Regions from separate parts of the Homo sapiens genome. Here all the other regions are reported to be linked to region 1. The links are microRNA targets in miRTarBase. Many come from high-throughput screens and were not tested one by one. Region 1 holds a microRNA gene; each other region holds the end of a gene's coding sequence.

Region 1 (7,121 bases):
CTTTTTCAGTATCAAGAGCGCAGACTCTGGAGCTCGATTTCCTGTGTTTGGATCCCACCTCTGACATTTACTAACCGTCCAACCTTGGGCAAGGATCTCATCGTGCTGTGCCCATTGTCTCACATGTCAAAGGGGAATCACATTGGCGTCCATTTCTTGGGGCTGCTGGGGCTGAACGAGTTAAGACTTGTACACGGCTCAGAGCAGAGCCCCGTGGTCGGCACTTCGTAGGTGGTAGCCAGGACCCTTGTGTGCTGTGAAACTATCATTGGTGGTGGTGGTGGTGGTGGTGGTGGTGGTTTTATGACTAAAATCTCTCCATGGGTTTTTGGAACAGTGTCAAAACATGGAAGTCAAGTCCTTCATCGGGTATGGAATGGACTAGGAAGCCCAGAGCATACACGGTGTTTACAATGGGGGCTAGTGATGCTCTTGATGCTTGGCAGCTAAGCCATTCACACAGTGGCTTTTGATACAGAATGCCACATGCAGTGGGGGTCAGCAGGGGTGCCGAGAACATTTGCTCCACTTAAGAGAGACAGTCCCTGGGTTCTTGACCTCGGCCACTATCTACGCTTTGAAGGAGTCTTGAGCGAGGATGCCAAGCTGAGTGAGGATTCTATGGCATCTTGCTTCCCTGGTGCTTAAAGAGAGGTCAAACTTGGTGCATGCATTGTGCATGCCTGTGTGTGCGTGGTGTGTGTGCATGAGCGAGTGTGTGACTGGGTTTGCCACGAAGCAGTCACCATCTAACCTTGAGCCAAAGACCTGGAGGTGGTGGTCCGTGCTGCTGTTTCATACTTGAGGAGAAATTATCCTTGGTGTGTTCGCTTTATTTATGATGAATCATACAAGGACAATTTCTTTTTGAGTATCAAATCTTGCCTCGGCAGACTTCCTGGACGCCATGACAAGTTCTGTAAAGGGATGCACGCATCAGCCCTTCCCAGGGGCTCACGCCTGGGTGGGGATGAGGGCGCATGCAGTTGGTTTGTGGTGGGGACACTTGTGCCCTAACCTCAGAACCCTGGAGGCGGGGCCACGCTTGGCAGGGGGCCACGGGACTCCTTGGTGCTATCAGGGATTTGCATTGGCCATGGGTGTGTGTTGTGGGTGACGCAGCATTCAAGCTACTTATCAAATCCTGCTTCTTGGAGGCACTTCTTGGACATGAAGCAAACCTTAGGGACCGATCATTGGGGCCAGACCCCCTTCCCCTGCCCAAGAGTGTGACTGACCCCCAGGCATGGGCTTGACTCTCAATGTGTGAAGCTGACCTGCTAATCCTCATTGTTTGGACTACCTGAGAAGAACTTTCTGGAAGAGACACCAACTTTGGAGAAGATGCCCAGCTCTTCTTGATGGCACAGTTCTTTGGTGCTTAAAGAATGGCTGTCCGTAGTATGGTCTCTATATTTATGATGATTAATATCGGACAACCATTGTTTTAGTATCCAAATTTGCTTCAGAAGTTTTTGAAAGCACAGTGCTGACTTCAGTGAGGGGACATTGGTGCCTGCCCCACCATGGAGTGTGACTGTGTTGATGATTTATAATGATGAATCCAGTGATCTCAGAATGCAAGCCACCAGTGTGATTTCCTTGGACAAATGCTAGCTTTGGGGTGGAGATGCCATTTAGGGGCTTGGTGCCATATCTTTTTATTGGAAGATGTTCACAATTATTTCATCTCTCTTTCTCTTCTTGTTATTAAATCTTAGCCACGAGGAATTCCTTGGAGAGATGCCGGGGTCAAGCCTCTCTCTAGGTAGATGGTGGACCGGGGAACCTGGGTCCAGCCTCTCCTATCTGTAGCCTTCATTCTGAGTATGAAACACTTCCTGTAGGGAATGCAAACATTAGTAAAAACTCCGTACATTTCCTGTTACTATTACTACTTTTTGGCAGCTCCTAAGCAGCTGCCTGTTGGGTATTTGGATTATTCTTGGTGGACGTGGCATGGCTTCGTGCCTTCCTTGGGAACCACCCCATCTTAGACAGACTCTCATGGAATAAGACGTTGTGGTCGACAGCACCTCTGGGGTGTGTGTGTGTGTGTGTGTGTGTTTGTGTGCGTGTGCATATGAATAGTTGGCTAGAGTAGTGTTTCTCAAACTTTAAAAATGCTCCTAAGATTTTCATCACCTAGGGATCTTGTTAAAAAGCAGATTCTGATTCAGGGACCAAGATTCTGCATTTTTAGCAAGTTCTCAAGTGATGCTAATACCGCCGGTCTGTGGACAACACTCACAGTGGTTTGGGGCTGGAGACCAGGTGCTTTCCCTGTGATATGTGTCGCCTGTCTCCCCACATGCCATATACCGTCCATCGTGGGAGAACGGCCCAGAATCAACGTGCCATGTTTTGGTTTGTGAACAAGGGTTCACTTTCACATGCGTAAATAGCATGAGATTACTTTTCTTTAAAATCAAATCATGCCTCAAAGGGCTTCCCAGATACAAGACCTGCTTCAGGGAGGGGCCGCCGGTGTCAAGCTGCTGCAAGATTGTCGGGTGCAGGTCAACGGCACGCTTATTCATTATTGATGTGCTGGGCCCTGGAATTCTGTGACCCTCCGTTTCCAAGCAGTCATCGGGAGGAAATTCCAGGAACTGAGACCATCTCTGCGGTAGGGACCCTGTCTTCAGGGATCAGTGACACCCCATTTTATCGGAAACAGAATTCTTCATGATGGCTTTGCTTATCTCTGACATGCATTCTGCTGGTTCTCGTCATCAAATCCCGTCTTTCAGGAATCCGTGGAGGAAGCTTTCATATATTTTTAATGGAACCTGCCTTAGAAGTCTTTCTGAGCATGGTTCCAATGTCAGGGTTTTGACTTTGGTGCCAGGGCTGCCTGGGCCCTGAGACTGAGGTACGGGAATGGAAGGTCAATGCCAGTACGTGTGCTTTCTTTGCAGGATGTGAACACCTCCCTGCCCCAACCCTGGGATTCAGCTCATCCCAAGAAGAATCTTCTGGAAGCAAAGACAACGGTGGGGAAGAGGCCATGGTTTTCGTTTCAGAACTATGCAAGGATATTTGAGGAGAGGTTATCCGTGTTATGTTCGCTTCATTCATCATGAATAATACATGGTTAACCTCTTTTTGAATATCAGACTCTGCCTCGGAGGGCCGCCCCCACAGGAGACGTGAGAGTGTGTGCCTTGTGTGAGCTGAGAGCCCCTGCCCCGGCTCCGTGCTGCGTGAGGGAAGCTTCCTGGAAGTGAGGCTGGTGGAGGGAAGAGCCCTGGGTTGCTTTGCTGTGTTTGCTGTGAATGCGATGTGTTTTTGCGAGTTATGTGAGGTTCCCTCCTCTTTGAATGCCAACTTGTGCCTTCCCCCAGTGGCTGGGTCTGTGGCTTAGCCACAGGGCTAGGTCCCTTCCTGGACCCAGTGCTTTTCAGGGTGGGTCCCTGGGGGCAAGGACAAGGTTTACCACTCCACTGGGACACTTGAGGAGAGGTTAACTCCTCCATGCGGACTCCTTTGAGGACAGCCTGTTTTCCTCTCAGGGTGGCTCCCTGGATGAAGTCCAGCACCTCTGTGGGTGTGTGAAGGGCAGGCCGACTTGGGCTGTGTTCCCACTCCTCACCCAGGTCACTGGCCCAGTGCCACTTCCTCCTCAGGTCAGCTTCCCTCTGCCAGCCGACCTGGTGGGGTCTCCTGGTCCATTGCTTGGTGCTCATAGACACTGGCACGGTGCCAGGTTCCCTTCACTCCTTCCCGATGGAGACCATGCAGCTAATGAATCTTCGGCTCTGTGATGCTGCCTTGGAGGGCTTCCTGCACACAGCACCTGGTTTGAGAGGAGAACACGGACTCCAGCGTGTCCCCTGGTTATGGAGAAGGGAGGCTGTCCTTGATCCCCCGTTTGGTGGATGATATAGTTTGGCTGTGTCTCCACTCAAATCTCATTTTGAATTCCTTTGTGTTGTGGGAGGGTCCTGGTGGGAGGTAATTGAATCAGGGGAGTGGGTCTTTCCCTTGCTGTTCTTGTGATAGTGAATGGGTCTCATGAGAGCTGATGGTTTTATAAGGCAGAGTTTCCCTGCACAAGGTCTCTGTTTGCCTGCTGCCATCCACGTAAGACCTGACTTGCTTCTCCTTGCTTTCCACCATGACTGTGAGGCTTACCCAGCCACGTGGAACTGTAAGTCCAATTGAACCTCTTTCTTTTGCAAATTGCCCAGTCTTGGGTATGTCTTTATCAGCAGCCAGAAAATGGACTAACACAGTGGAGGGCAGTGGCACCAAGCCCCGCCCCCTTCAGGATGTGGTCCCTGTGTGGGGCAGCATCCTGGAGTGGCTGCAAAGCCCCACTGCTCTCTGCCTCCGTGGCTTTGTCCTATCTGAGGTGGCCAGTGCGCTGGGGTCCCTGTGTGGAGTCAGTTCTTTATGGGTGCCTGCAGGTGCCGGCTTCACAGTAAGAAAACTGTCAGCTTCGCCTGAGGTATGGGCACAGAGGTGACGCAGGGATATGAACTTTGTTGACGAATGTGTTCTCTGCACAGCTAACCCAGAGAATTCATTCCACCCTCAGGAGAAGCCCTAGAAGTGATACAGGCTCTGGCCGGGGGACCCGATGTGCTCGTGTCGCGGCGTGGGGCTTGGTGAGGAACCACCGGAGTGCTCTTGCATTTTTCATGACAAAGACCACACAGTTGGCCTCATTCCTGCACAGTGGGAGAATGTGTGGAGGTGTCCCGCCACCAGAGAGGAGGTCTATGTCAGCACCATCACCAGGTACCTGGGGGAGGGTCTGCTGACGATGCCCAATGTTCAATGGCCCAAGCAACCCGTCCTTGGGGGACTTCTGGGCAAGACCATTTCGGTGCTCAGCCCCACTCCGTGTCCCAGGCAGAGAGGGGGCTGAATTGATGATACCTATTAAATGGGTCATTAATTCTCATTATCCATGCAGCCTGCCCATGAGGGTCCCCCAGAAGGGAGGGCAACTCCGGGGAAAGGTTCTGGCCATCAGCACGAGGCCACGATCCAGGAGGTGCTGCAGAGCCAGAGGCCACAGGACAGATTATCAAGCCAGGTCACAGGCTTTCTCTGTCCTTGACCCTCAGCATCCAGGCTACCTACAAGAGGAGGCAGGGGGACTCCTCTGACACACCTGGGGAGGTCTCGTCAATGGCAGGTTCCCTCTACAATGCTTTCTCTGCTGCAAATGCAACTCAGCATCACCTCTTTCCTGGATATAATTCCAAGGAATTATTAAAGGAGGCATTGGTGTCAGCACCTCGTGAAATACTCGTAAGGATGACCCATGGCAGAGCCTGTGTCTTCATTGGAGTAAGACTCACATGCTGTGGCCTCCAGGCTCTGGAGGCCTCGGGGGCAGAGCAGGGTTGAGGCTGACCGTGGGGCCTCGCCTGGGTTTGTGGCTTATCATATTGGACCACTGTTTTTCAGGACAAACTCCCCGGAGATGTCCCCTGGCAGGACCCTGACCTGGAGGCAGGGTGCTGTCCATGATAGGGGAATGGATGGTTGATCAGAGAACGTACATTTTATAAATGGTGTATGTCAGTTGATCCACAGTCCCTACCTATCCAGTGACTTCTGGAGGCCACATCAGCTCAGAAGACAAGGTGGTGGTTTCCTAGGCCATGCTATTTTCTGGCACTTGAAAGGACCTTCTCCTTGCCGGGTTTGCTTTCTTTATGCCCAGTCTCATGAGGGAGTGCCTTTTTTGAGTATGGATCTTGCTGGGGAAGCTTTCTGGAAGGAGCTGTTGCCCTTCGTCCCTCTCCAGGGGCAAGAATGCATGGTTGGCTGGAAAGCAAGGGCTTGATTGACATTGTGCACCCCTCAACTCTCCTAACCCTCTGTCCCCAATTCATCCTCAGGCGGACTAGCTGGAAGGAAGGCAGACTCTGGTGAAGACGTGGGCCGTCACCGTCAGCCTTCGGTACTTGAAGAGTGGTTATCCCTGCTGTGTTCGCTTAATTTATGACGAATCATACAGGGACATCCAGTTTTTCAGTATCAAATACTGCTTTGGAAGGCTTCCCGGACAGCGTCCCGCCTTCAGGCAAGGGGTCTTGGCTTCACCTCCCACCCAAGGTATGTATGTGAACGGGCCATCGCAGTGCACTAGCTTCTTCATGTGCCACAGCCATGACCAGAATCGAATCTCTGAGGAAGATGGTTACTTCTAAGGCTGTGATTTTCTGGAAGGGGCTTTGGTGTCTGCACTACATTATTGGGGGAAGTTGACCAGTGAGAGGCCCATTCACACAAGACGTCTGTCACCTGCTCCAAGTGACCCTCACCCTTGGTAAGATGAATCTCTGGAGACATGCTGGCTCGGTAGTGTTACTGTCATCAGCCGGACTGACTGATAGGTAATTGGTCATCATTATTGCTTTTGTTCCAGGGCAGAATTTTTGAGTGCCAAATCTTGCCAGGGAAGGGTTTCTGGAAGCAGCACCGCCCTCTGGGGAGACTTGGCATCCACATCTGTTGGAGTTTGTGGAGAGTTAGTTGAGCAGTCTGAGCTTTGTTTCTGAGGCGTCTCCCTGAGCTCACTCTCCTGCCAGAGCTGTGTCCTGCCCATGGCCATAATGGCTATTGAGAGGGTTGGTGACTTTGGCCACCATGATTTTGTTTCGATAAAGTTCTCTCTTTTTAAAAAAATCAGATTCTTTTGTTTATAGCATAACTACATGGTTCATGAGTTGATCAAATAACAAGGAATGACTTGGTCATTCCATAAATAGTGATGGAGTGCACACTGTGTTCTAGGTGATTCTGGACCTTAGCAGAGAGCAGTGAATGAAATCAAGTTCTTGCTCATGTGGACTTTACATTCTGGTGGAAGAGACGGATGAGAACACATGAATTAGGAAGCGTAATTTTGTCCACTGCTAGGTTTTATGGGGAAAGGGAAAGCGGGTTACAGTGACAGAAAGAGGTAAAAGCAGGTGGACCTTTGTGTTAAATACAGGGGTCTGGAAAGCTCTCTCTGAGGATGTGGGTGGGAATGGAGTGGGGTGGACCAGAGGAAGGTCTGGGGTAGGAGCATTTCAGGAGGAGGGCAAGGCCCATGGAAAGCCCCCTGGCATCTTTAAGAAAAAGCAAGAAGGCCAGTGGGATTGAACCGAGCT
Region 2 (7,121 bases), not on the chromosome of region 1:
CTGGGTCAAAAGTGTGTGTGTGTGTGTGTGTGTGTGTGTGTGTGTGTGTGTGTGTGTGTTTTTACCTTAACAGTCATTACCAATTTACTCTCCAAAAATAGACTAATTTTATTCCAAACTACAGCATGAATGCCCATTTCCCCACATGCTTGCCAAAGTATGTGCCTTAAAACCTTAAATACGCTTACTGAAAATGTTTTCATGTATTAACTGCTTCTTCACATTCATTGCCCTTTTTTATTTATTGATTTCCTCCCACTGCAGGTGGCCATTTTGTCTTCTGATGCTGATATTTTCCTCCAATCAAAAGTCTTGTGGGAATAAATTATGTGTGTTTAATTTATCCTTAGGGCTTCTGGGTTTTGTGTCCCACTTAGAATGCTCTTCCATACCCCTACATTGGTGTTCCCTACCCTGACAAAAAATAATGCTATCATGAAGCCCCAAATGAGTAAGCCCTACCTTTTACATTCAAGCTTCCAGTCATCTTTTTGGTGACCCATTCTTTTTTTTTTCCTGTTTTTTTCCCCTTCATTTTAATCAACACTTTACAAAGTACAAAATATACTGCCTTTTTTGGGAAACATTAGGTACTTTTTTCTCTCCATCATACAGTTACATGAATCTCGAGGGCTTTGTGTTTCTTCAATAAGAACATAAGCATGAAGCCCCAGGAGGTTGGGATAGGATGGTCAGTTCTCCCCTTCACCTAGACCTCGGGACCCATGAAGCATCATTGCTATGGATGGTGACCTGTGCACGCCAAGTGAGGGCCAGAGGGGGCCGTGAGCAGGCAGGAAGTCCTCTGTATCCCCCTAAGATGGGGCTCTGGACCGGGCTCCTCAGAGCTCCACCATGCACCCACCATCCACTCATCCCCATCTCTCAAGATAAATTATTTTGGCATACAGCAAGATGAAGTCTTGGAATTGTTTTGCTGTTAGCACCCTAATGTTTTGGAGCCAACTCTGCTCAACTCTTCCTGGACCATCTTCTGAATGTAGGTAAACTGAGGCAGTGGACAAGAAAATGCACTGAGCTTGGCCTGTCTTGAAACCTGAATTTGACCTGCTTTTCACCCCACACCCCATACCAGAGTTGGGGTCTCCAACTTTGTTGGATGTCCTTCCAGGATGACCCCCCAATAGGTGTGGGGTTGGTGCTCCATTCTTAAACAGTCAGCCAATTATCACAAGATTCTGAGCAAATAAAACAATGCAGTTAAGTGAATTGAATAGAAAAAGTGTAGTAAATAGACTACTTAGGGCAAAAAAAACCTTTTAAAAAACTATCCTTAGAGTAATGAGAAAATAACACAATCATGAAACAAGAACAGCATACACAGTTGGCCCTCCATAGCCACAGGTCCCACATCCACAGATTGGAAATATTCAGGGAAACAAAGGATGCTTGCTTCTGTACTGAACATGTACAAACCATTTTTTCTTGTCATTATTCCCTAAACAATCCAGTATAACAACTATTTACATAGCATCTACACAGCATATTATAATCTAGAGATGATCTAAAGTATACAGGAGGATGTGTGGAGGTTATTGGCAAACACTACTCCCTTTTGTATCAGGGACTTGAGCATTTGCAGATTTTAGTATCTGTAGGGGTCCTGGAAACAATCCCCCATGGATGCTGAGGGACAACTGTATGTAATGAACATTCAGATAACAGGTCTACTTAGAAATTTTGAATGTTAATGAAAATTTAAAACTTCATAAAAAGGTAGGAAGATAAAGTCAAAGAAATCTCCCAATAAAAATCAGAAACAAGAGAAAAGATAAGGAAGTTATAGAAGTGATCCAAAAATCTAGTTTTTGAATAGTAACACTTTCAGACAGAGAGGAGGAAAAGTGTGATAAAAATCAAATGAATAATTAAAGAGACTTGCTCTCAGTGGGTGAAATGGACACACCTGAGGTGTCTGAATATTTGAATGTCGTTCATCTTTGTAGTCCCAGAGTCAGATACAAATCAGATAACCCAAATATTTGAAAGACTAATCATTACCAAAGTTTAGGGTCTTTGAAATAAAATGAATAAAGGAGTAATGCTTGAGAAACAGAATTACTGAGGCTAAGTCCTCTTGGTATTAATAATGAATACAATCATTTTATAATCTAGCATTCAATATCTTGCACTGGTAGCAAATGAGCTGTACCTGTAAACTGTCGAAATGAGAACAAAACTACTGTGGCCTAATCACGAAAGTGGTCAGTAAGAACACCCCTGATATAGAGTAGCAAGTAGAGAAACCAGAGAGCTAAATTTCTCATCAAAATTATTTAAAGTATTTGGCAGAGGAGGAGATAAGTCATACAAAAAAACATTTTATTTTGAGACAGGGTCTCATTCTGCCACTCAGGCTGGCGTGCAATGGCACAATTACAGCTCACTGCAGCCTCAACGCCCAGGCTCAGGTGATTCTCCCACCTGAGTCTCCTGAGTAGCTGGGACTACAGGGGCACGACACCACACCTAGCTTATTTCTTATATCTTTTTGTAGAGACAGGGCTTCACCATGTTGCCCAGGCTGGTCTAACTCCTGCACTCAAGCGATCCACCCACCTCAGCCTCCCAAAGTGCTGTGATTACAAGCGTAAGCCACTGTACCTAGCAATATGGAAACACTGTATATGCTAACAATTATTTCACCTTTAAAATACATAAAATAACATCCTAGTTATCATAAGGCTCACAATAGAACACTGATCATTAAAGCTAAAGAGTTTAACTGTGCAAACAGGAAAGATTAAGAGTATAAAAACACAGTATGTGATGTCATAGGATTGTAAAAATAAAGCTATTATGGAATTGAGAAAGGTAAACAGAAAAATGGGATGGTTGACAGATAACTAGTACAGGAAACAAGTGAGCAAACCTCTTAAAAAAATCCTGCTTTAAATGCCTGCATTTACTCAAATCATTTTAGAGGAGATAAAAGTCAGTGGCTCACAACTTTGGGCGTAGGGAGGAGAGACATCACTTAATAAAAGACTAAAAAACTTAAAAAACTCCGAGGAGAATCTAGTAAACAGGAAACTTCTTTTACCTCCCTCATCTCTGCTTTTAGTAAAACAACTAAGTATTTGTATATTCAGATAATTATATGGAATAATTATATGGAATGTCTCTCCATGTAAGCCATATCTACAATAAGATCTTCCCAGCAAAACATAAGTTCTTTCCACAAGGTCCATAAATGGACTTTAGATATCTCTGGATCCCTACTCTATCTCTTACAAATGTATGTAAATTCTGTGTATGTGCACATCTTTCCGTAAAGACATCTGCTTTTAGTAATAGCTTCCAGAACTAGCTTCAAAGTTATACTGCTTCAGAATGAAATATCTTGTCCATTCATTCTTATAAGTCAAAAAATGTCTAGTTCATTATCTTTATACTTAGCAAAGTAACATTTCAAATACTCTCCTAAAATATGACTCTTACCATAAGGGGATACCCTAATTAATGACTCTCTTGATGTTGGACACTTATCTTTAAAAAAATATAGAGTTGCCCAGAGTATTTTAAATAAACATTGTGTGTGTAAGAAAAAAACTACGCTGAATACTTTAATGCAGTACGAAATTCACAGCTAGAGAAAGGCCCTACTGATCACCAATTGTTCTTAAACATCAAGTTTTCCCCTCCATCATTTAATCATATTACCACTTTTCTATGTGCTTTTTAGTTGTGTTATGGACATAAAAGCCATGAACTAATTTTTTTAACTGGAATACTATTATCCCTACCCTACAAAATTCCTACCATAAGCTGAAAAAGTTATGTGAGGTACTGAATCAAATCACATATTCTATCTTGAGAACACTACACTAGCATTTAACACCATGGAGAGTTAAACATGGCTTCAGGGTGTAATTGCTGAACCCACACCCAGCTCAAAAATAGCAACTGTAATAAACGTAATGCTGTTATACCGTTTTCCTGAGATTACTCAACACCTCAGAGAGGAGGATCAAAACAATTATTGTAGGAGTTCAGACAGGGCGGTGGGAGAAATTATAAGAGGAAATTATAGAAAGAAGCAAACCTTCTTGGAAGGCCAGGAGGTTCTGCAAAAGCTTCAAAAGACAATTTGGCTGAAGGCAGCTGAATTCTCTTAAAAGCTTAGGTTAGATAACAAGGGGATGTAAAGGAATTGATCTAGGTAAGTTAGTTTACTCAGGCTTCGGAACCTGGAACCTGGCCTTTAATCATTCGTGCACAGGACTGCTCTCTTGGTGGGTGGGGGAGGGGAGCGGGCATGTTAATTACCCACACGTGTGTTGACTCAAAGCTTTTGTCATTAAATCTGTACTAAATAAATACAAATATTGCTGGCTTATTGGGGCTTCACTCTCGCTGTACTCTCTCGTCAGCGGTGCTGAGCAGTGAAGTCCCCTCATCACTCTGTCAGGCAAAATACCTGTGTCAGGGTACATTTTTTCATCCATAGTTCAGCCAGGGTCTGTGGGTCAGACCCGGCAAATTATTTTCTGCCTCAGCAGATTACTTGCTTTAGTTGATGTGTAATAACGCCCTTCTGCAACCCTTAATATAGTCCCGAAAATGCAACCAAAATGCTCACTTTTTAAAATTCTTTTTTTTTTTTTGAGACAGTGTCTCTTTCAGTCACCCAGGCTGGAGTGCAGTGGCATGATCTCGGCTCACTGCAACCTCTGCCTCCCAGGCTCAAGCCATTCTCCTGCCTCAACCTCCCAAGTAGCTGGGATTACAGGCACCCACCACTACGCCTGGCTAATTTTTGTATTTTTAGTAGAGACAGGGTTTCACCATGTTGGCCAGGCTGGTCTCGAACTCCTGACCTCTGGTGATCTGCCCACCTCAGCCTCCCAAAGTGCTGGGATTACAGGCGTGAGATACTGCACCAGGCCAAAAATTATTATTTAAACTGAGAAATAAAAAACCTTATTACTGAAGACATACAAGCTTTAAGTGTGAGAAAGTATCATATGGCTAGAACGAACACTAAATTTTACTGCATTTCTTAAACGTGTATGTGCCAGGCACTACGTTCAATCCTTTAGATATATTCTTAAACTTCACAATTGTCCTGATGGTAATCTATCATCCATTCACATTTTACATTTGAGAAACAGTATTTAAGAGAGAGAGATCTTAGAGGTAACATAACTTCTCTAAGATTAGCTACTAAGTGGCAGAATCAGGACTCTGAAACACAGCATTGCCTGACCACAGAGCCTCTGCTTTTCAATGTCTTAGCATTTTGCCTGCTCAAATTAAATTGAGAATCCACTAGAAAGTGTAAGTCTTATTGATGGTGGGCCAGTAGTATTACCTGTGTATCTCCTATTGTATATTACTACACATGTAGTAGCTACCCAAAGATAGCTGACTAAAGGAAGCCCATGCCCTACTGCAAAACAGAATAGCTTCAAGAAGAATGCATGATTTGGCCCATGGAAAACAGATCAAATGTTTTGATGAATGGCATGTATAATATCAGAGAAAAGTAACCCTAGAAGGAACTGTTATATATATATGTCTTATTTTAAAATAACAGCATGAGCCCATGAAGAAATAACCATTCAAGAGTTATCAGTGATGACTATTAAAAAGCAGATATTTTACCTCTCAACTAAATGTTTAATTAAATAGGAACACTGAAGGTGCATGTAACTTTTTTATTGAGGCACAACAAGGCATTGTAACTTGCCTGGACTTGAGGCAGTCAGTTTAGTAAGCTGAACGTTAATACAGTTAAGGATTAAGTGCAAACAATATACATTCACAGCTTGACTAGCGAGGCTACATCACAATTTATAAAGTGCCAGATTAGTGCTAATTGTCATTCAGCTTGATTTTTCACCTCAGGAAGGAAAACAAAAAAGTAAGGACCTCCTCCCTCTAGGAACAAAAACATTTTCCTAAACCAATCAGTCATGAGGGCAAAGACTACTTTTCCTTCAATCCCACTAATTAGAACACCATCCTTTTATTGTCAATACTGTACTGACTTTCAATCTTGATAAAGAAGATAGCCTGAAAACGTAGAATATTTCCAGCTACTTCCATAAATTGCTCCCCTGTGCAGACGTAACCATATCTGGTCTCCCTGGAAGAGCTGAAGAATTGCATGATTGCTAGCAGTTTCATGGTCTGGAGCACCATCATTGGCATAGGCTGATACCAAGACCTCTTCATTCTTCATGAGGTTGACATACAGTGGCACATTCACTGCCAGCTTTAGCATGTGAAAAATGAAAACGTAAGTGCCATTCACTGGGCAATTAAATCTACCAAGCTGAAGATCAAAAGTTTCTCCTAAGTTGTTCAGAAGAAGATCAAACACAATAGGTTGGTCTAAAGTTCCAGGGGCCAGATTAGAGGTTCTGGCTGCTGAGAAGGCAACTCGCATCTGCTGAGGCAGAGGGTAGACGTGTACTGGCAGTATGGTGGCTGCTGGATTTGTCACTGGCACATCCACAGGGGTCATGCTACGGGAGTCTCCTTGTCCAGAGTCACCACTGTTAAAGGTTTCGTTGTCTCTTTCTGGGCTGCTCACCTGAGAAGAATCACTCCACCCTGCTGTTTTATTAGCAACAGTGAGTTTCTCATAATGAAGCAGTTAGCTTTGAACACAATATTTAACATTAGTCGGCTACTGAAACAGACAAAGATACATTTTATAGTAAATTCCAAAACAAAAGCAATATATAGCTAGATTATACTTTTCTAGATTTTTCTGGTAATAGGTTTTTACATACTCTTCTAAAGCCAGAAAGGTCCAAGATAATCTTGTCTAACTGATCCTTTTTTAAGATTAAGAAAATGTGGCCCCCAAAAGGCCAGATAACTTAGCAAAGTCTAAAACTCAGGTCTGAACACTTTTTACTTCATCTTCCTCCCATAATTCTTAATTTCTCAGAGGTCATTCTACAAAGCACCTAATGTAGAAGGTCTCAAGAAAATGGAGACTACATAAAAGAACCAATTTTTAGAACTACTAGCCACTAGCCATTCAGAGATATATTGATATGGAACTAAGTCCCATGATGATGAATGCTTTTTTTATTTCCAAGTCATACACTTGTAATGTTTTAAGTGCCATACAAAAACACTGC
Region 3 (7,121 bases), not on the chromosome of region 1:
AAGAATAAAGGGGAAATAATAAATGAAAATGAACTGAAGAATCATTCACTGAGAATGCAAAAGAGACGAGAGGTGGAATTAAGAGTCTTATTCCCCAAAACTGAAGGAAATGAGGAAAAAAATAGTAAGTTGAGAAAGACAGCAGGTTCTTATGCAGTGAAAAATGAGAATCTCTTGATAATGTCTCTTTTCTCCTTAATAATAGCCTCACGTCATTAGAACATAGCATTTTTTATTGTGGATATGCTTTTTTTGTTAGATTGGTTAATTGATATATAAAATATTTTGCTATATATGTTGATTCTCATGATTTGTTAGGGAGTGAGTTTTTTCTTTTTTCTTTTCTTCAACTTTTATTTTAAGTTCCAGGGTACATGTGCAGGATGTGCAGGTTACATAGGTAAACGTGTGCCGTGGTGGTTTGGTTTGCTGCAGAAATCATAACATGACCCGGGTATTAAGTCCAGCATCCATTAGGTATTCTTCCTGATAGAGCATAGCATTTTTAATTTTTTTTCTCATTTATTATTTCATTTTACCTAAATTACACTTTCTTGGAATGTATCAGTATTATTAATCTTTATTTAGCATTTGAGGAAACTAAAACTCAGCAGAGTTAAGTGACTTAGCTAATGAGCAGTTCTAAGAGTACAACAGAGATACTCTGACATGTTAGAAATGCTGCTTCACTACCACACTGTAACATCACTGCAGGATGCACCTAAGTTAATACACACTCTGTGCAGAATAAAGAGAGCTAAGCCGATATGAGGTATGAGTGTGAAGAAAACAAATCTATCAGAATATCAATCTTCCCCATAACTTCTCATTCTATAGCTAAGGAACAGGACAGAATAGAAAAGGAACAAAGGAACAGGACAGAATAGAAAGTCAGAAAGATCCGGTTCAGCTTCAGTACTCACAAACTGTGACTTCGACAACTAGTTTAGCTTCCTGAGGTTCCTTTTCTTCTTCAATAAAATGGACATTATAATACCTACCTCGCAAAATTGTTGTGAGGTTAAATAACACAAATGTAATTTGCCTAGTATATTAGGTTACTTTACCTCTTTTTGCTGGGATTTTAAGTCTCCTATGTCATTCTTTTTCAGCTTCTGGGATGTAGGGGAGCCCAACAACATAGCTACCCTGGAGGACTGTGCCACCATGAGAGACTCTTCAAACCCAAGGCAAAATTGGAATGATGTAACCTGTTTCCTCAATTATTTTCGGATTTGTGAAATGGTAGGAATAAATCCTTTGAACAAAGGAAAATCTCTTTAAGAACAGAAGGCACAACTCAAATGTGTAAAGAAGGAAGAGCAAGAACATGGCCACACCCACCGCCCCACACGAGAAATTTGTGCGCTGAACTTCAAAGGACTTCATAAGTATTTGTTACTCTGATATAAATAAAAATAAGTAGTTTTAAATGTTATAATTCATGTTACTGGCTGAAGTGCATTTTCTCTCTACGTTAGTCTCAGGTCCTCTTCCCAGAATTTACAAAGCAATTCACTACCTTTTGCTACATTTGCCTCATTTTTTAGTGTTCGTATGAAAGTACAGGGACACGGAGCCAAGACAGAGTCTAGCAAAGAAGGGGATTTTGGAAGGTGCCTTCCAAAAATCTCCTGAATCCGGGCTCTGTAGCAGGTCCTCTTCTTTCTAGCTTCTGACAAGTCTGTCTTCTCTTCTTGGTTTCATACCGTTCTTATCTCCTGCCCAAGCATATATCGTCTCTTTACTCCCCTGTATAATGAGTAAGAAGCTTCTTCAAGTCATGAAACTTATTCCTGCTCAGAATACCGGTGTGGCCTTTCTGGCTACAGGCCTCCACTGCACCTTCTTAGGGAAGGGCATGCCAGCCATCAGCTCCAAACAGGCTGTAACCAAGTCCACCCATCCCTGGGGCTTCCTTTGCTCTGCCTTATTTTCAATTGACTGAATGGATCTCACCAGATTTTGTATCTATTGCTCAGCTAGGACCCGAGTCCAATAGTCAATTTATTCTAAGCGAACATTCATCTCCACACTTTCCTGTCTCAAGCCCATCCATTATTTCTTAACTTTTATTTTAGCTTTCGGGGGTACATGTTAAAGGCTTTTTATATAGGTAAACTCATGTCGTGGAGGTTTGTTGTACAGATTATTTCATCACCCAGGTATTAAGCCCAGTGCCTAATATTGTTTTTTTCGGCTCCTCTCCCTCCTCCTACCTTCCGCCCTCAAGTAGACTCCAGTGTCTGTTATTCCCTTCTTTGTGTTTATGAATTCTCATCATTTAGCTCCCACTTATAAGTGAGGACATGCAGTATTTGGTTTTCTGTTCCCATGTTTGCTAAGGATAATGGTCTCCAGTTCTACCGATGTTCCCACAAAAGACATAATCTTCTTTTTTAAGGCTGCTTAGTATTCCATGGTATCTATGTATCACATTTTCTCTATCCAATCTATTGTTGACTCACATTTAGATTGATTCCATGTTTTTGCTATTGTGAATAGTGCTGCAATGAACATTCGTGTGCATGTGTCTTTATGGTAGAAAGATTTATATTTCTCTGAGTATGTATCCAGTAATAGCCCATTCATTTATTGCATAAAATTCTACCAATACTGATGACGTTATTAAAGAGTACATCAATAACGTGGCAGCTTTCATAACCATGTTTCTTGCACAAAGTGCCATGAGGAGACCCTCAAAATTCAATCACTGGACACCACGTGTAATCACTGAATGAGAAAATTCAACTGGACAAGTGAATATAACACATCAGCTTTCATTGCAAAAGTTTATTTCTCTTAGGCATTGTGACAATCTGGTTTTCAAATCAACACATCTTTAAGCCAATTATTTAACCTAAAAGTAATTTTAAACATACTTTCAACTTTCTAATTCCCTTTTTTAAAATCATGAACATCAATAAGGAGATGCTGAAAGACTTTTTTTTTGTTCATTGGTGTTTCCCTGAAGGTGGCTATAATTTAAGTTTTATTTCTAGATTGAAAGACATATGGAAATATTATTCCATATTATTTCTCCATATATATTTAGAATTTAAGTTTAAAGACAAGTTTTAAAGACAGGTTTATAAAACTAAACTTGTCTTTACAGTTTGCCAAGAAAAGAAAGAATTGCTAAGGGTTTAGTGGTTAAAGATTATTGGAACATAAATTATCTATTAGGAAAATTATTTTTTGAGAAGTAGATCATCCAATTGAAATTGTTTTAAAGTATAATATCTTATAAGTGGGGTTACACAAACACTTTACCACCTTCGGCACCAGAAAACCCAGACATTTTCAAAGAATAGTAGATTAATTCATGATACATATTCTTAAAAGCATATTCCCAAAATAAACTACTGTTAAGATTTACATATTACTATATGGGTCCCCAATTTTTTTAAAGAAAAATTACTATTTTTTGTAAAAATGATACATGTTCATTACCAAAAATTCCTACAGATCACAATTATAGAAAGATGAAAATTTTTAAAATTCCAATTCCACGTTGCAGTAATAATTATCATGAACGTCACTCCAGGAAACTTTTTATGCCTTTAATGGGGTGCAGGAAATGCTACCTCAAAATATGGCACCTTGGGAACTGAGAAAACCGCAAAAACGGGAAGTCCACTCTCATCTTTCTCTTGCCTTTCTTACCGGAAGCAGGCCATAGCATCTAGGAAGGTCATCTCTGACCTTCTTCCTCCTTTCTCCTCTGAACACTCTCCTATGACAGGTGTCCTGCTCTATACCCAAAAGGAAAGAATGTCGTACAGGGAAGCCAAGAAGAACCTGAACAAACAGGCCTTGCTAAGTCTCATTAGGTTATTATCATTAGATCATATCGCTTTTTGTCTAACCATGTTTTTTTTTTCACAACTATCCACTTCATGAGGCTTAGCACAAAATTTACATAGATTTCTCTGTTTTTTGAGTGTTCATTTCTGAAGGCTCTCATGTCATGTAAAACTTACGTTAAATACATCTGTATGGTTTTCTCTTGTTAATTTGTGTTTTGTTATAAGGGCCTCAGCCATGAACCTTGCAATTGGTGAGAAAAAGATGTTACTTTTTCTCCCCTATGACTTCAAGAGTTAGATGAAAAGATGGAAAAACAAAGAGTTAAAAAAACCCAAATATATATATATATTTACATGTATACACACATACACACATGCATTGACACACTTTTAGAAAGGAATTATACAACAGATAATACTTTAATTTTTTAAATTTTATTTTGGTTTTGATTGACACATAATAATTGTACACATTTGTGGGATACAATGCGATGTTTCAATACATGTGTATGCTCTATATTAATCAAATCAGGGTAATTAGCACATTCATTACCTCAAACGTTTAAAAAATTGAAGTGAAATTGAAGAATTACTGAGTTCAAGAATGTTACAGCCTTTATAGATTATGAAAAAGAGTTATTTCCCAGAAGGTCCCTCTGAAGTAAAAAACAAAACAAAACAAACAAAAAATTATAAACAATCAACAATTAAGTCAAATGTTTTTGCTCTCCTGTTTCCCAATCCCCTTTTCTACCTTTCCGTTTCCTGATAATGACTCCTAAAATCATTGCACGTGGGTGGAGCAGAGCAAGGTGGTCTTTATACGTGTGTGCATGTATATGCGGGAGGGGGAGAGGGACGCATGACTACCCCTCAGAGAGTTAGATCCCAGACAGTGTAAAGGGGAGATTGTGGGGGAAGCAGGAGACAGTAAGGATGTCAGAACGCCAGTGGGTTCAGCAGGGCATCCTGGTGGGGGTTGGACTGTCCCAAAGTCTCAAAGCCTGAGCTAGAGTGAGGAGGACGCCCATACGTGGGGGTGGTTGAGCAAAGGTGTCTGAGCCGAAGCAGGAGGACTATCTAGGAGGGCCACAGGGCACCGGGCAGGGTGAGGTGGATGTCCACACAGGTCATTCAGCACAGGATGGAGAGGTAGAGCCTGAGCGGGTCAGCATATATGTCGTGCAACCAACTTTAAAATTTCGCACGGTTTACTCTTGGGTATCTTAGAATTGTATTGCCATTGTAAGTGTAATATTATTTTGTACATTTTGCAGAGTATTATATTGTTGATTTTTGTATAATAATAATTTATCCAGAAACACTGTTTAACTTTCCTAATTTTTTAAAACATTTTGTCCATACATTCCCTTTTATTTTCTGTGTAGATAATTATACTGTCTAAAACACTGAGCTATCCAGTACAGTAGCCACCAGCCACAGTAGACTATTAAGCACTATCCTAATTGAGATATTCTGTAAGTGTAAAATACACACTAGTTTTTTTGATAATTTGAAAAAAGAATATAAAATATGTCACTAAGAATTTTATATGGATTACATGTCAAAATGATAATATTCTAGATATGTTTGTTCAAATAAAATAAGTTATTAGAATTAATTTCACTTCTTCGGGCTTTTTTTTTTTTTTTTGCTTTCTTGATATAATTACTGGAAAATTTAGACATATGCAACTCACATTTTTGCCTTTCACTATATTTCCCTGGGACAGTTCTGGTCTAGAAATAATGATAGTTGTGGGTTTTTAAAACTCCCTTCCAGTTCTTTTGGTCATATTGAGCTGGCTAGGAATGCCAACATATTGTTGCATAAAGCTGCTATAGTTTTGTTCTTAAACTTAAAGAAAATGCTTCTAATGGCTTACCATTAAATCTAATAGTTGCTACAGGTTTGGGGTAGACATCCTGCAGAAAATTCCTTTCATTTCTTCTTTGTTAAATGTTTTAACACTAAGTGGTTTATTGATTTTACTAGATGATGCTTTAGCAGCTCTTTTAAAATGTTGATAAGATTAATTACATTAATAGATTTGCACACTATGTACATATATGCACATTGTTTAAAAAAACAAATTCTTCTAGAGGATTGTAATTAAAAATAGCTGTTTCCTGCCCACTTCTGATTCCCACACCTAAGTGGCAATCGTATTCAACCGTTTAGATGCTTCTTTTCTATTGAGTTCCATGTTTCTATTTCTATCAAAAGTTTATACTATAATTCCTTGATTTTTTTCAGTTTTAGATAATTTCTATGAGCTCCACACTAATGAAAACAAGAATAGTCTTCTTTCTCTCTCTCTTTCCCATCCCCCTGCTATCACTATATAATCATTTATTTAAAAATCAGTATTCAACATTTGCACTGGTATGAATATGTAAATATTATTCACAGCTGAACCATTTGCTGTATTCTTACTACATATTTTTAATTACATTTTGCTTTTTATGGAGTTAATATTGACATCTTTTCTTTTTTTGGAGACAGGATCTCACTCCGTCCCCAGGCCAGGGTACAGTGGCACAATCATGGCTTCATTGGAGCCTCGACTTCCTGGGCTCAAGCAATCCTCCCATATCGGCTTCCCAAGTAGTTAGGACTACAGGTGCACACCACCAAACACAGCTAATTTTTTAATTTTTTGTAGAGACAGGGTCTCACTTTGTTGCCCAGGCTGGTCTCAAACTGCTGGCCTCAAGTAATCCTCCCACCTTGGCCTCCCAAAGTGCTGGGATTACAAGCTTGAGCCACCATACAGGACCCATTTTTTTATATTTATCTAGCTTTCTGCGTACTGACATAATTCACCTTTTAACTCTTCAGAAATGTATATCACCTCTCAATTCATTCAAATGCATTCCATCTATCCCATAATTTTGTAGGGAAAAAAATCTTCCTTGGAAAATTTCCTTCCTTTCCCAATCTGAACGGAGATTGCTCTGGTGATTTGCTTCACAGCCATTACTTTGCTAAGTGTTATTAAAAAAGAAAATATTTTGTAATTTTAAGGTTATTTCAAATTATGTTGCAACAATGCAATATAAATGCTATTCACTTATAAGAACAAGATATAAATCAAAACTATATTGTTAAGTAAAAAATGCAAATGTTTAAGAATATGTAGATTATATTTCTATTCATATTTAAAATGTGGATTATATATCTATATATGTTTAGTATATAACATGTATGTAATTATATGTTTATTATGTATAGTACATAGTTTATATATAGTATATATTCTTATACACTTTATATGTAGTACATATAGTATAACCATTTATGGAAATGTAA
Region 4 (7,121 bases), not on the chromosome of region 1:
CCCAGGCAGGATGTCAGTGCAGGATGGAGCCCCGCCCTACCAAAGGCTTCCAGGTGGGCATGAGCTCACAGGCAGGCCAGGGAGTAGGGAAAGGCTGCCCTGGAGGAGGCCACCATTGGTGCAGATTCTTGGTCCCCTCTACCCCCACTGCTCCAAGAAAAGGTGGCCTAGGGGCATTATAGATTGGGAATTGAGGGGTTGGAGTGTTAGTTCATGCCCTGGCCTGGGAATGGGACCGCCCTACCAGGTTCGTCTCCCTGCCAACCCCAGTCCCTTCCAGTGCTCTCCTTTCTTTCCCAGGAGACCCCAGCAGCTCCAACACCCGCCGGCGCCACTGGAGGCAGCTCAGCCTGGCTAGACAGCAGCTCTGAGAATAGGGGCCTTGGGTCGGAGCTGAGTAAGCCTGGCGTGCTGGCATCCCAGGTAGACAGCCCGTTCTCGGGCTGCTTCGAGGATCTTGCCATCAGTGCCAGCACCTCCTTGGGCATGGGGCCCTGCCATGGCCCAGAGGAGAATGAGTATAAGTCCGAGGGCACCTTTGGGATCCACGTGGCTGAGAACCCCAGCATCCAGCTCCTGGAGGGCAACCCTGGGCCACCTGCGGACCCGGATGGCGGCCCCAGGCCACAAGCCGACCGGAAGTTCCAGGAGAGGGAGGTGCCATGCCACAGGCCCTCACCTGGGGCTCTGTGGCTCCAGGTGGCTGTGACAGGGGTGCTGGTAGTCACACTCCTGGTGGTGCTGTACCGGCGGCGTCTGCACTAGTGAAGCCCTGGGCTCTTCCCACCACCCATCTGTTCCGTTCCTGCAGTACACCTGGCCCCTCTCCGAAGCCCCTTGTCCCTTTCTTGGGGATTGTGGAGGCTGGGTCAGAGGGGAGTTAAGGGACTGCAGGCCTGGCAGCAGGACATGCCTTGGCTGAACCAAGTCCTGAGAGCAGCATCTCTGTCCCCACGGTGCCTTGTGTGGGTCCCCGTCCTTGGCTTTCTGGGTCCTGGGCTGCCCCCAGTGCTCCAGACCTTCCCCACTGGCAATCCAGGTTATCATCCATGTCCTCCAGAGGAGCTTCCTCCTCCAGGCCTCAGCCCTGTTGGCCCAGGTGGAGCAGGAGGGACCACTGGAACATGTGGTGCTTGGGAATGCCTCTCCTGTTGCATTGGTCCCTGAAGGCCTCAGGGCAGGTATGTGGTGTGTGGGCGACTCCACAAGACCTGCCTCCCATCCTGGCAGCCCAGCCTGAGACCGTTGCATTGAGGCAGGCAGGAGCGGCAGGGTGGCTGCTCTCCAGGAGCCCAACTGCCTTGAGTTCCTGCCCCACTGGGCCCCCTCCCCTGCTGGGCAATCCTGGGAAGGTCTGGAGGTTCCTGTGGACCTCAGGGAAGCCAGGGGCAGCTGTCAGGCCTGAGGAAGACCTGTGGAGCTCCTCTCCAGCCTCCTCTTTCCCTCCCCTCTGGTCTCCATTCTCTTCAGCTCCCTACATGGGCTGGGGAGGAGACACCTGGTGGGCAGAGCTCAGGCAGAGGTTTGGATTTCAGCTCCCTCACTTCCGGGGCTGTGTGGCTTTGGCAGATGTCAGACTTCTGGTCTTGCTTCTCCACGTGGACAGTGAGTATCTGGCTCATTCTTCACTGGGTTCTTCTGAGATTGAACCTACAGGTGTTTGCCAAGTGCCTGGCCCAGAGCAAGTGGCCACTGCTTCTCCCATCTCTCTCCTGCCCAACCTGGTAGAGCTGAGGGCATGAGAGGCAGAGTGCACAGTGGTCAAGGGTGCAGCTCTGCAGCACAGGCAGCCTAGGCCTGCGTCCCAACCTGCCTCTCACCAGCTCTGTGACCTTGGGCAAGGGATTTATCTGTCTGTCCCTTAGTTTTCTCACCTGTAAAAGGAGGATAAGTATATATATATATTTCCCAGTGTTGTGAAGATTAAAGGAGTTTATCGATGTAGGTCTTAGGATGAGTCCTGGCATTTACCAAGGGTTGGATATATGTTATTATCACTATTAAGTGTTGAGGGTCCAGGCATGCTGGGCAACAGGGACCCCATCTCTACAAAAAAGTTTAAAAAATTAGCCAGGCGTGGTGGTGCACCTGTCGTCTTAGCTACTTGGGAGGCTGAGGTGGGAGGATCACTTGAGCCCAGAAGCTTGAAGCTGCAGTGAGCTAGGATCGTGCCACTGCACTCCAACCTGGGTGAGAGAGCGAGACCCTGTCTCAAGAAAAAGAAAAATGCAGAGAAACAGGAGTCTTGGCTACTCCTTTAGAGGCAGACTCAGACCCTCCTGCCTCACAGCTTTATCTTTGTATTTGCCCCTTACTTTATCTTGTGCCTTGAGAAATTGCTGGGGAGAGAGGTATGTCCACTGGGCAGCTGTACAGGATGGAGGATATAGGGCGTTTCCACTCCCAGCAGCCAGGTTCCCTCACCCCAAGCTCACCCACTGTTGGGGAGATTATCTACAATAACACCAGAAACACATTGGGGTGGATTGGGGGTATCCTTATGGGTTCTTTTCAGGGAACCATTGCTGGACAAGGCACAGGAGCCACCTCCATTTCTGAGCTCTGCAAGGGACAAGAACTAGAGCCATCAGGGGCTGGGCTCACTGTGGCCCCACCCCAAGCCGTCAGCCTCCAGGGATCTACACCCTGCCTTGGCTGCTACAGCTTTTTCACTCCACTGCCCTAGGGGAGTTCAGCAACCTAATGATCTCTATCTCTGAACATCTCTTCATCCCATGCTCCAAGTCCAGCAACCTGCACCCTGGAACCAGGAGTGGACCCTACCCGAGCTGTCTGTATTAATCCCCATCCCCCACCACCAATCTTAAAAAGCCCTCTGTCCCCCTACCCTAAACCCCAGTTAGGTACCCATGCTGGGCAGGTCAGTTAACAATTTATGCACAGGTACTAGTTTTATTGTATTACCGTTCCAGGGTAGCTTTGAAAAAAGTATCTCAAAAAGGCAACATGGGCCGAGCGCAGTGGCTCACGCCTGTAATCCCAGCACTTTGGGAGGCCAAGGTGGGCAGATCGCCTGAGGTCTGGAGTTCAAGACCAGCCTGGCCAACAGGGTGAAACCCCGTCTCTACAAAAATAAGAAAATTAGCCAGGTGTAGTGGCAGACGTCTGTAATCCCAGCTATTCAGGAGGCTGAGGCACGAGAATTCCATGAACCCAGGATGCGGAGGTTGCAGTGAGCCGAGATTGTGCCACTGCGCTCCAGCCTGGGCGACAGAGTGGTATTCTGTTTCAAAAAAAAAAAAAAAGGCAGTATGTAGCCCCGAAGACTGTTGCCCAAGTGGTAGAATGTTAGCACACTACCAGCCTAGGTAAAAAATACAAAAAGTAACTGGGCATGGCGGCGCCCATCTATAGTCCCAGCTACATGGGAGGCTGAGGTGGGAAGATAAGTCACTTGAGCCCGCCAGGAGGCGGAGGTTGTAGTGAGCTGAGATCGCACCACTGCACTCCAGCCTGGGTGACCGAGTGATACTCTGTCTCAAAGAAAAAAAATTATAATTTTAGCACAGTAACCAGCCATGATGGGAGATACCCTGGGTAAGGCATGTAGAAAGGGTTGAGGGACCTTCCCAGTCCCCTAGCCCCGCCTCCCATCCTCCCATCTTTTTCTTTTTTCTTTTTTTTAGAGAATCACCCAGCCTGGAGCGAAGTGGTGCAATCATAACTCACTGTATCCTTAAACTCCCGGGCTTAAGCGATCCTCCTGCCTCAGCCTTCTGAGTAACTAGGACTTCAGGTACCTGTCACCATGCCTGGCTAATTAAATTTTTTTTTCTTTTTTTTTTTTGAGATGGAGTCTTGCTCTGTCACCCAGGCTGGAGTGCAGTGGCGCGATCTCAGCTCACTGCGACCTCCACCTCCTGGGTTCAGGCCATTCTCCCGCCTCAGCCTCCAGAGTAGCTGGGACTACAGGCGCCTGCCACCACGCCTGGCTAATTTTTTTGCACTTTTAGTAGAGACGGGGTTTCACTGTGTTAGCCAGGATGGTCTCGATCTCCTGACCTTGTGATCCGCCCGCCTCGGCCTCCCAAAGTGCTGGGATTACAGGCGTGAGCCACCGCGCCCAGCCAAATTAAATTTTTTATAGAGATGAGGTCATGCTGTTATGTTGCCCAGGTTGGCCTCATGAGATCTTGCCTTAGCCTCCCAAAGTGCTGGGATTACAGATGTGAGACACTGCACCCAAACCCCACCACTTTTTTTTTTCCTTTTTCTTTTTTTGAGACAGTCTTACTCCGTTGCCCAGGCTGGAGTGTAGTGGCATGATCTCAGCTCACTGCAACCTCCGCCTCCCGGGTTCAAGCAATTCTCCTGCCTCAGCCTCCCGAGTAGCTGGGATTACAGAGGCCTGCCACCACACCCGACTAATTTTCGTATTTTTAGTAGAGACGGGGTTTCTCCATGTTGGCCAGGCTGTTCTTGAACTCCTGACCTCAAGTGCTCCACCTGCGTTGGCTTCCCAAAGTGCTGGGATACAGGAGTGAGCCACTGCGCCTGGCTGATCCCAGCACTTTTCAAATGATGCCGCTCAAAGCCGTGACTTGGCCTACTTTGAACAGCAAACTTGTTGCTGCTGTTGTCAACCTGAAGGCCTCTCAAATGCCAGCTTCAAGCAGGGTGTGAATTGGCCAGTGTCAGATCTCAGGAGTCCTGTGTTGAGAGTGTGGCTTTCAGCTGCGGGGAGCTGCACTTGGTGGGGAAAGCCAGGCAGGTCACCCTCACAGCCAGATAATGTGGAGGTCAGAACCCAAGGAAGGGAGTGAGACCTCCACTCCCAGTGGGGGACCTGGCCACCCATCCTTGGGGACCTGAGAAAGCGTACTTCACCTTGGGGTGAAGGCTGGGTGGGGCCAGAGGGACCAGTGCCCTCCTCAGTGCTTAGGGGCAGAGCCACCTGCAGCAATGGTATCTGCATATTAGCCCCTCTCCACCTTCTTTCTCCCGCTGAATCATTTCCCTCAAAGCCCAAGAGCTGTCACTGCTTCTTTCTCCCTGGGAAGAATGCGTGGACTCTGCCTGGTGATAGACTGAAGCCAGAACAGTGCCACACCCTCGCCTTAATTCCTTGCTAGGTGTTCTCAGATTTATGAGACTTCTTAGTCAAATATGAGGGAGGTTGGATGTGGTGGCTTGTGCCTGTAATCCCAGCATTTTGGGAAGCCGAGGTGGGAGGATCCCTTGAAGCCAGGAGTTTGAGACAAGCCTGGGCAACAAAGCAAGACCCTATCTCTAAAAAAAAAAAAAAAAAAAAAAAAAAAAAAAAAAAAAAAAAATCTAGGAGATGCTCTTTACCCTGCCTGGCCTCAAACTATTAATAGCTTCCTTTGAGCAACATTATTTATTATGAACTTTCAAACACAAAAAAGTAGAGAGAGTAGAATAACAAATCCCCATGAGCCCATCACCCAACTTCAGTAATTATCAATTCATGGCCATCTTGTTCACCCCTGCCTGCTTCCCTGCTTCCCCTCATTCTGCAGAGGTTCTTTTCTTTTGAGACAGAGTGTTGCTCTGTTGCCCAGGCTGGAGTGCAGTGGTGCAACTTCGGCTCACTGCAACCTCCGCCTCCCAGGTTCAAGTGATTCTCCTGCTTCAGCCTCTCAAGTAGCTGGGATTACAGATGCCCGCCACCACACCTGGCTAATTTTCGTATTTTTGTTAGAGATGGGGTTTCACCATGTTGGCCAGGCTGGTCTCGAACTCCTGACCTCAAGTGATCCGCCCGCCTTGGCCTCCCAAAATGCTGGGATTACAGGTGTGAACCACGGTGCCTGGCCACTGTACAGGTTATTTATAGAAGTTGGAGAGTGAAGGGTTGAGAAAGCCAAGGGGCAGATGCGGGTCTGGAGGATTTTGTGCCTAAGGCCCTCTCTTTGCTCCCAGACAGCATGAAGTAACAATGAGGCATCCACCTCTTGGTTTTGTGGCCTCTGTGGATGACGTCTCTCACCTTGAACCAGTTCAGAGTTGGAGTAGCGCAGGATCCTGTCTTCAGAGGAGGGGCCGAAGCGGGTTCCTCTGTTGTCAAGCTCTTTGGAGGTGCCTGGCTGCTACTACTGTCCCAGAGAGGTGATGATGAATGATGGGTGTGTCCAGTGGCAGTTTGCCCCACTGAGGCAGGGGCTTCCACTAGGCCCTGACAGAGCCCTTCCAGCAGGCAGAAATCCCTGTGCTAGGCAAGATTCAAACTCCGTAGCATGTCTCCTGCTCCCATCTCTTAGGAATGGAGTCCTTCAGGCCTTGAGTCCCACATTTTCCATGATGCTCCATTAAGCAGCTGATAGCACCCCCACCTCCAGGGAAAGTGAGTTCAGAGTCCTTGGTCTAATGCATCTGTGTTGAAATTGAGGCCTTCCCCTGTGTTCACCTTTCTGCTCTTTTTCTTTTAGCCCAAGGCTATGAAGGCCTCATTCGGTGCTGGGCATGGTCACTCCTAGCATTCCTCACTCTGTTGCTAACAGCAACAGCAATAATAATAAGGGTTACAACTTACTCCATACCTTACTGTCTGCCAGGCATTAAGCTAAGTGCTTTACATATATTAAGTCATTTAATCCTCATAATGACCCTATGAAAGAGATACCATCTCAACCCAATTGACAGCTGGTTTGCAAGATTAGGAGGGATGAAGGACCCAGGGGACAATGCGAGGGAAAACTCTGACCCCGGGGCCCCAGGCTGGATGTTCTTTATGCCTGTGAACCACAGCTTATCACATGTCTGGAGTTAGGGACCCCACTTAAAGTGAGATTTTGGCTGGAGGTGGTGGATCATACCTATAATCCCAGCACTTTGGGAGACCAAGGCAGAAGGACTGCTTGAGGCCAGGAGTTCAAAACCAGTGTAGGTAACAGCTAGACCCTATCTCTACAAAAAATTTAAAAATTAGCTGGGTGTGGTGGTATGTGCCTCAAGTTCCAGCTACTCAGGAGGCTGAGGTGGGAGGATCACTTGAGCACAGGAGTTTGAAGTTACAGTGAGCTATGATGGCACCACTGCACTTCAGCCTAGGCAACAGAGGGAGACCCTGTCTTTAAAGTACATAGAGGTTTTTCACACCAACACATCTCTGCCCAGTGTGCCAACATCTGCCACCTGCT

Evidence for each region. The annotated mature microRNA hsa-miR-655-3p reads AUAAUACAUGGUUAACCUCUUU and lies in region 1 at 3,087-3,108, shown strand. An mRNA with a match to its seed (bases 2 to 7 or 8) in the 3' UTR can be bound and repressed. Matches are read on the target gene's strand: a 7mer-m8 pairs with bases 2 to 8, a 7mer-A1 pairs with bases 2 to 7 and ends in A, and an 8mer does both.
Region 2: miRTarBase lists CAPRIN2 as a target of hsa-miR-655-3p. Seed matches in the 3' UTR shown: 8mer at 5,749-5,756.
Region 3: the mRNA of CLEC4E is a reported target of hsa-miR-655-3p. Seed matches in the 3' UTR shown: 7mer-A1 at 2,166-2,172.
Region 4: the mRNA of MAVS is a reported target of hsa-miR-655-3p. Seed matches in the 3' UTR shown: 8mer at 2,795-2,802 and 7mer-m8 at 2,918-2,924.

Annotation. Positions count from the first base shown.
Region 1 is chr14:101,046,524-101,053,644 of GRCh38, forward strand. It overlaps MIR655 (microRNA 655), which reads left to right and starts at 3,027; the gene lies at 3,027-3,123. MIR381HG (MIR381 host gene) reads left to right here. Exons shown (of 3, transcript NR_104192.1): 2 at 4,544-4,746; 3 at 5,079-5,272. It overlaps MIR539 (microRNA 539), which reads left to right and starts at 798; the gene lies at 798-875. It overlaps MIR889 (microRNA 889), which reads left to right and starts at 1,378; the gene lies at 1,378-1,456. It also overlaps MIR544A, MIR487A and MIR487B. RefSeq lists an enhancer at 1-243.
Region 2 is chr12:30,703,886-30,711,006 of GRCh38, forward strand. It overlaps CAPRIN2 (caprin family member 2), which reads right to left. Exons shown (of 19, transcript NM_001385503.1): 19 at 5,668-6,585. The coding sequence ends at 6,017. Among named protein-coding and RNA genes, the nearest start is that of IPO8, 12 kb to the left of the region's middle.
Region 3 is chr12:8,528,801-8,535,921 of GRCh38, reverse strand. It overlaps CLEC4E (C-type lectin domain family 4 member E), which reads left to right. Exons shown (of 6, transcript NM_014358.4): 6 at 1,113-2,617. The coding sequence ends at 1,284. It also overlaps a transcript of CLEC4D not described here. Among named protein-coding and RNA genes, the nearest start is that of CLEC4E, 8.5 kb to the left of the region's middle.
Region 4 is chr20:3,865,383-3,872,503 of GRCh38, forward strand. It overlaps MAVS (mitochondrial antiviral signaling protein), which reads left to right. Exons shown (of 7, transcript NM_020746.5): 7 at 301-7,121. The coding sequence ends at 765. Among named protein-coding and RNA genes, the nearest start is that of PANK2-AS1, 20 kb to the right of the region's middle. RefSeq lists an enhancer at 630-1,131.